3 separate regions of the Homo sapiens genome follow, and all the other regions are linked to region 3. The links come from fine-mapping of genetic effects on gene expression. A gene starts in region 3. Each other region holds a variant in brackets. All regions are shown on one strand. Distances are from middle to middle. Region 1 overlaps ECPAS (Ecm29 proteasome adaptor and scaffold). Region 2 overlaps PTGR1 (prostaglandin reductase 1). Region 3 holds the start of PTGR1 (prostaglandin reductase 1).

What was found. PIP is the estimated chance that this variant, and not a neighbour inherited with it, causes the effect.
Region 1: its variant is the best candidate, but not a certain one, in a credible set for the expression of PTGR1 in thyroid (GTEx, PIP 0.81).
Region 2: its variant is the best candidate, but not a certain one, in a credible set for the expression of PTGR1 in aorta (GTEx, PIP 0.78).

Annotation. Positions count from the first base shown.
Region 1 is chr9:111,459,470-111,462,323 of GRCh38, forward strand. The region is part of intron 2 of ECPAS (Ecm29 proteasome adaptor and scaffold); the gene reads right to left. Among named protein-coding and RNA genes, the nearest start is that of ECPAS, 23 kb to the right of the region's middle. The variant T/C (reference allele first, on the strand shown) is at 1,680.
Region 2 is chr9:111,577,565-111,580,064 of GRCh38, forward strand. It overlaps PTGR1 (prostaglandin reductase 1), which reads right to left. Exons shown (of 10, transcript NM_001146108.2): 7 at 1,232-1,387. It also overlaps a transcript of ZNF483 not described here. Among named protein-coding and RNA genes, the nearest start is that of PTGR1, 21 kb to the right of the region's middle. The variant C/T (reference allele first, on the strand shown) is at 1,048.
Region 3 is chr9:111,597,870-111,600,723 of GRCh38, forward strand. PTGR1 (prostaglandin reductase 1) reads right to left here and starts at 1,778. Exons shown (of 10, transcript NM_001146108.2): 1 at 1,734-1,778. RefSeq lists an enhancer at 1,629-2,201.

The DNA.
Region 1 (2,854 bases), 140 kb before region 3:
TTGAGAACACACATTCCATCAGCTGGGAGCAAAATATGAATTATTAGTAGAATCCCACCTAGAGTAGGAATCCTATGCTAGGTATGTTAATAACCCCATTTACTACCACCAAAGGAAAACTGAGCCAGGCCAGAAAGCTAAAAATCCCATGTGACAATACCTCAGAGACACAAGAGCTCATCATACGGAGGCATAACTTAGTACAAAGTCATAATTACATGATTTTAAGGGGCTTTTTTAATTACTTCTAAAGACAGACCACAATGATACAACTCACAATTATAAATTCTGCTTTAAAAAACTGGTTCATTCTAAATTACCACAAATATGAACTGTATTATTTAAAAACCTCCCCACACAAAAAAATGGCAGGACCTTATGAATTCGCTGGTAAATTCTCCTTCATAACTTCTTCCAGAGAAGAGAAAAAGGTGGGGTAAAGGGATGGCAGGGGAACACATCCCTGAATGTTAAGAGGCCAGAATAACCTTGATACCAAACAAGGGTATCCCCAGAAAGATAAAAGCAAATAAAAGATATTTCTCATGAATATAGACGCAAATGAGATAATAAAATAATATTTAAATCATAATACATAAAATAAGTAAAAAATATGAGTCAAATCCAGCGATACATAAAAAGGATAATACATCATACAAAAATTGGATTTATTCCAAAGATGCAAAGTTGGTTTAATATTGAAAATCAGTGTAATCTGCCACATTAACACAATAGAGAATAACAATCATATGATCATCTCAATATATACAGAAAAGGCATTTGATCAAATTCAACATCTCTTCATGCTAAATAGATGGGAACAAACTATTCATGTTGAAGAGACAAGGAAGAAAAGAGAACTTCCTTAATCTGATAAGAGATTTTTATAAAAACTTACAGCAAACATTATATCTAAAGGTAAAATACCAAACACTTTTCCTCTGAGTTCAGGAACAAGGTAAAGATGTTCACTATTACCAATTCTATTCAAATTTGTACTGCAAATTTTATTCAGAGCAATAAGACAAAGAAAAATAAAATGCATTAAGATTACAAAGGAAGAAATAATATTTTCATTATTTAAAGATAATGATTGGTACACAAAAAATCCAAAACAATCTATGGAAAAATTAATAGAATAACAAAATACACAAATCAATTGGTTTCCTATATAATAGTAATAAACCATTAGAAAACAAAATTTGAAAACACCTATTACAATGACATCAAAACACATCGAATAGCTGGGAATTAATCTAGGGAAAAATGTGTAAGACCTCTACACAGAAAACTAAAATACACCGCTACAAGAAATTAAGGAAAACTTAAAAGATACACCATATTCACAGATTAGAAAATATTAATAAGATGTCAATTCTCCCCAAATTGACCTATAGACAATATAATCCAAGCACAATCCATCAGATAACTTGGGTAACACTAAAAAGCTGATCCTAGAGCCAGGCACAGTGGCTCGAGCCTATAGTGGTTCCAGGCCAGCCTGGGCAACACAGGAAGATACTAACTATCTCAATCAATGAATGAGTGGATGAATAATCTTTAAATGTGTGGATACCACTAGAAGAAAAAAAAAAGTTGATTCTTTCTATAATTTAAAGAAATGCAAAGGACCAAGATTTGCCAAAACTATCTTGAAGAGGAAAAACAGCTAGAAGACT[T/C]TGGTCAAATTTCAAGGCTAACTACAGTAGGCTGGGCACAGTGGCTCAGCCCTGTAATCCCAGCACTGTGGGAGGGCAAGGCAGGCTGATTGCTTGAGCTCAGGAGTTTGAGACCAGCCTGGGCAACATGGTGAAACCCCATCTCTACCAAAAAAAAAAAAAAAAATTTAGCTGGGCGTGGTGGCGTGCACCTGTAGTCCCTGCTACTTGAGAGGCTTAGGTGGGAGAACTGCTTGAGCCCAGGAGGTAGAGGTTGCAGTGAGCCAAGATCATGCCACTGCACTCCAGCCTGAGCAAAAGAGCAAGACCTTGTCTCAAAAAAATAAACACATAAAATAAAAACTACAGTAATTAAAAGTATACTATGCTAACAAAAAATAAGTAGACCACTTGAACAAAATAGAAAATGTGTAAAAGACAAACAGGTATATAGTCACCTGGTTTAAACAGAGGTGTCACTGCAATGTAGTGAGTAAATGATGGTCTTTTCAATAAATGGTGTTAAATCAACTGTATTCCAATATGGGAGAACAATATTTAATCCCTACCTCACACCATATCTATTAGTCCGTTTTCATGATGCTGATAAAGACATATCCAAGACTAGAGAATTCACAAAGGAAAGAGGTTTAATGGAGAACTACAGTTCCATGTGGATAGGGAAGCCTTTCAATCATGGCAGAAGGCAAGGAGGAGCAAGTCACATCTTAACATGGATGGCAGCAGGCAAAGGGACAGCTTGTACAGGCAAACTCCCGTTTCTGAAACCATCAGATCTCCTAAGACCCACTCGCTATCACGAGAACAGCATGGGAAAGACTCACTCCCATGATTCAATCATCTCCCACTGCATCCCTCCCACAGCACATGGGAATTATGGGAGCTACAAGATGAGATTTGGACGGGGACACAGAGCCAAACCATATCATCAAACAAAAAGAAAATCAATTCCAGATGGATCATAAATCTAAATGTCAAAGGTAAAACAATAAAGTTTCTAGAGAAATAAAGAATATTCTCATTACCTCGAGATAGGAAAAGATATCTTAAAACAAGAAGCTAGATGGTAAGGGAGTCTGAAAAATATGATTAGCAGAATCTGTCCCAAAGAGTAGTTTATAACTGTGGAGCTGGAAATAACCGTCACTGAAAGAAACTTTCATAATCTGACAAAA
Region 2 (2,500 bases), 20 kb before region 3:
CTGGGTGTGGTGGCTCACGCCTGTAATCCTAGCACTTTGGGAGGCCGAGTTGGGAGGTTTGCTTGAGCCCAGGAGTTCCAGACCAGCCTGGGCAACATGGCGAAACCCCATCTCTACTAAAAATATAAAAATTAGTTGCGTGTGGTGGCACATCCCTATAGTCCCAGCTACTTGGGAGGCTGAGGTGGAAGGATTGCTTGAGCGAGGGAGGTCGAGGCTGCAGTGAGCCACGATCACACCACTGCACTCCAGCCTAGGTGACAGAGTGAGATCCTGTCTCAAAAAACAAAAAAAAGGAATAAAGCACTGATAAATTCTATGATATGGATGAAACTTGAAAACATTTTGCTAAGTGAAAGATGCCAGTCATAAGAGACCACTTTTAGTGGGGAGGAGGGTGGTAATGGAGAGTGACTGCTAATGAGTAGCGTTTTTTGGGGGGGGTGATGAAAATATTCTTAAACTGGTTGTACAATTTTGCCAATATAGTAAAAAACATTGACTTCTACACGTTAAATGAGTGAATTACATGGTACATGAATGATATCTCAATAAAGCTGTTTTTTAAAAAAGGCATATATACTTTCTTCATGTACCCCAAAATGGAAACTCTAGGAATATATTCCCTTGTATCAGCGGTCCTCAACCTTTTTGGCACCAGGGAGCAGTTTCATTGGAAGACAATTTTTCCATCGATTGTTGGGGGGATGGTTTCAAGGATGATTCAAGTACATTGTGTTTATTGTGCACTTTATTTCTATTATTATTGCAATGTAATATACAATGAAATAATTATACAACTCACCATAACCATAGAATCAGTGGGTGAGTTTTCCTGCAACTAGACGGTCCCATCTGGGGGTGATGGGAGACAGTGACAGATCATTAGGCATCAGGCATCATCAGGCACCTGAGTAGTGCGATCTCCATAAGGAACGCACAACCTAGATCCCTCACATGCATAGTTCACAACAGGGTTTACACTTCTATGGGAATCTAATGCTGCCACTGTTCTGAGAAGAGGCGGAGCTCAGGCAGTAATGGGAG[C/T]AATGGGGAAGGGCTGTAAATACAGATGAAGCTTTGCTTGCTCACCTGCCCCTCACCTCCTGCTGTGCATCCCAGTTCCTGATAGGCTATGGACCACTAACCATCCATGGCCCAGGGGTAGGAGACTCCTGCTTTATATAGTACTTCCATAATAAATTAGATATTAAGTCCAGTTTGTACTTACATTATCAAAATAACAATCATAACCATCAGGAGACGCTTTCTTCAAGGTTTCTTCCAAAGACTCTACCGTCTTGTAGTTAAAGACGACATCAAATCCAAGCTTTTGAAGGTAGGCAACCTTTTCATCAGACCCTACTGCTCCAACAACTTTGCAGCCCTAAGTAGAAAAAAAAAAAAAAAGGAAACCATGAATAAGTCACAAGCATGGACCAACACTACTTTCCTGGTCTCGTATGCCTAGGTTCCCTAGGAACACTCTCTTAGGTGCTGAGCCACATATAAAAGGAATACCATAATGGGCCAACAGATCCCATAGGTGAAATCAGTCCCCGGACCATCCTACAACTCAGCTTCAGCTTGCTTCTGACCACCCAGCAGGTCCCTTCTGCATTTATTTGGTTCATAGTTCCACCAGCTGGTTTCACAACCGATCCATTTGACTTCCTTGGTTCTTTGTTTCTGGGCTTCTCTTCCTTGCAATGCAGTGTATGCCATCTCTTGGTACAGTCATTCTTCAGACTATTATTTTGTCTCAGCTCTGTGACTCCCACATCACAGACAGCCCTCCTAGTAACTGCCCCCTTATCCTTTTTTGATTTTTTAAATGTTTATATTTTTTTGAGACATGGTCTCACTCTGTTGCCCAGGCTGGAGTGCAGTAGCACGAACATGGCTCACTGCAACCTTGACCTCTTAAGCTCGTGATCCTCCCACCTCAGCCTCCTAAGTAGCTGGGACCACAGGTGCATACCACTACATCTGGCCTTATATTTTTTAAATTTTCACAGAGACAGGGTCTCACTATATTGCCCAGGCTGATCTCGAACTCCTAGGCTCAAGTGATCCTTCTGCCTTGGCCTCCTAAAGTGCCCAGGCTGATCTTGAACTCCTGGGCTCAAGTGATCCTCCTGCCTCAGCCTTCTAAAGTGCTCGGATTACAGGCATGAGCCACTGCACCAGGCCCCCTTTATCCTTTGATTTAGTCCAAAGCACCAGACTACACGCTTCCTAATCACAGAGGAGCTAGGAAGCATTCTGAAAAGCACTTTCAGGATGACACTACAGATTATAGTGGTTCATAGAAACTAGCTTTTCAGAAAGCTCCCTTATACTCTAAATGTATTATGAAGACCAGAATATGTGCCACTGTGCATTTTCAATCGAGGAAAAACCCCAGTTGGATTTACATGAATCTCTGTACAAATAGTGACGGCCACAGGCTTTTTCCATTCCTTCATGATTCCAGAAAAAACTATTGCAAGAGAGCCCT
Region 3 (2,854 bases):
AAGAACCCAATAGATAGAAGTCCATGCACCTCTTTCAGATGGAAACAGCCACGCATTTCAAGGCAGTCTCAGAACTCCTGAAAACCACCGGAGGGCGCCGCTGCTCCGCCCCATTTTCAGGTGCGTTTTTTTTTTTTTTAAATACTTTTTTTTCTCTCTTTTCTTGTAGAGAGGAGCCTCACTGTGTTGCCTAGGCGATCCGCCCGCCTCGGTCTCCCAAAGTGCTGGGATTACAGGTGTGAACCACTTGCACTCAGCCATCGGGTGCGAATTTTCTTTGGCCCAGTAGGGATTTGAGTTTAAACTCCACACCAAACCGATTTTGAGCTGAAACGCTGCACCAAAGCAAGGGAAGATGATGAAGGCTGCCCCGAGCTGGGGGTTCAGGATGTTCTGCTTGGACTGAACTCTGCCGAATCACTTGGGACCTGCGCCTTCCCGCGGGTGCATCCGCTACAAACAATCCAGTTACGAAACCATTTGGAGCTGCCAGTGATCTCCCCAGCTCCCCTACCGGTGCCGCGGGAGGGGACACGGTGACCTGGAGGGAGCACTCCCGCATTGCGAGGGAGCCAGGGGGGCGGTCTGATCTGCAGCCCGGGGTTGTTCCTTCTTTTCTTTTTTTAAAATTAAGACTTTTTTTGTGACGGAGTCTCGCTCTGTCGCCCAGGCTGAAGTGCAATGGCGCGATCTCAGCTCACTGCAACCTCCGTCTCCCGGGTTCAAGCGGTTCTCCTGTCTCAGCCTCCTGAGTAGCTGGGATTACAGGCGCCCGCCACCACGCCCAGCTAATTTTTGTACTTTTAGTAGAGACGGGGTTTCCCCATGTTGGCCAGACTGGTCTAGAACTCCTGAGCTCAAATGATTCGCCCGCCTCGACCTTCCATAGTGCTGGGATTACAGGCGTGAGCCACCGCGCCAGGCCCTACGTATCATTTTTACGGTGAGACATTTGCAGTTTACTCTGTTATTTCGAAATACACATTATTGGCTCTAGTCACTCTGCTGTGCAACAGATCTCAGAACCTACTCCTCTCGTCTCTGAACTTCGTACCCTTTGGCCAACAAGCCCCCATTCCCCCCCGAACCCGCTCCCAGCCTCTGGCAACCATCATTCTAGTCGTTATTTCTATGAGTTCAACTTCTTTAGAGTTCACACATCTTTGTCCCTTTCCCCAAAAAAGCAACCGCTGGGCTTCCAAACTCGCTACAAGTCCAGAAGCCCTCCTGGAAAGGGTCTGGCCGCAGAGGGGCCAGGTCCCGGGAAAGTCTCGCCCGCCCGAGGAGGGGGCCTGGCGCGGCGCCCGGCCTTTGCCCGCTCGCCCTTTGCTCCCACCCTCGCCTCCCGCCGCCCGCCGCCCGCTTGCCCATTCCCGAATCCCCACCCCGATCTTTCTTCTTCTACCCTCCCCCAGTTGTGCAGTCCAGCAAGTTCCCTGGCCAGCCCCCTCCCGGGTGCAGGAAGCTACCGGGTGTCCCGGGTTGTAACCAAGCTTTCCTATTCCCTCCGGCGCGCGGCTCCAAGCTCTCCAAGGAACTGCGGGGGCGGGAGGCGTCGGGACGTCGGCTCCCAAGATCCTCCGAGTGCAAGACCCAGCGGTCATTTCGACGTAAGGGGAGGAGGTCTAAGAGCAAACCTCCTCCACTGGGGCGTCTAGAAACTTGGCAGGAAGAAAGCAAGGGGGTTAGAGGAGGGAGAAAAGGGAAGGAAAGAAAGCAGGAGGTCTACTTACAGGAGCCCGAAGGTTCCACTGCCTGGGGAAGGCGGCTGGGACTGCGCAGCCGGGCGCCCGGGGTCCGACTTATGACAGGTCCCAAGAGAGGGTGGGGCCACCCCAGGGCGGGGCTGCTTCTTTAGGGTGAGAGCCCGGCCCCGAAAGGGTCACAGGAGGAAAACCAGGGTCCGGGAAATCTGAGTGCGTTTGTGTGTGTGTGTGCGCGTATCTCTGTGTGCCTATGTGCATGTGCGCGCGCGTATGTGTGCATGTGTGCGTGTGTGTGCGTGCGCGCCCGCGCGCCCGTGTGTGTGCGTGTAGGGGGTTAGGGACTCCTGATAGGAAAATTCCTAACAGAGCTTTGTCCAGCTGACACTGGACCTCCGCCTGGGGTCCTAAGTTGGAGCCCGGCGGAAATATGCCCCGTGGGGGAACCAACCGTGGCATCTGCCAAGCAGGCCGGAAGGGTCCAAAGGCAGGGCCTGGGGCGGCCGCAGCCCTAATAAGCCCCCGGTGCTGGCTCCGATCCCTGGGCTCCCCGTCAGCCCTGCCGCTTGCCCGCAGTGCAAGCTTTCGCCCAGGGCTGCGGTGCAGACACCCTGCCTGTCTGTCCCCAGTCCGCCTGCTGAACACCTACTCGCCTTCCACCAGCCAATTCAAGGTCACCTCTGTGAACCCTTGCCAGACTCCCCCAGGCAGGAGTGAGCACTCTTGCCACTGAGGCACCCCACCCATCACACCCTAGCAAACATCAGGCCTTGACCTGGCTTCTGCAAGGAGAGGTGGTCTCAGGCAGGGGTTGAACGTGAAGCTAAGTCGTTGGTATTAGACGACTGCAGGTTCGAAGCCTGCACCTGCCACTTACTAGTGGTGTAGCTTTCAAAGACTTACTTACCTTCTCCTTGCCTCACTCAGTTCAGCCATCTGCAAGATGGGGATAAGAAGAATGCCTAACTTCCAGTCATTGTGAAGATTCAATGTCTTTAATTTATTTATTTAATTTTAATTATTTTGAGGTCTTGCTCTGTCACCCAGGCTGGAGTGCAATGGTGGGCATCATAGCTCATTGCAGCCTTGAACTCCTGGACTCAGGTGATCCTCCTTCAGCCTCCCTAGAAGCTGGGATTACAGGCCCACCA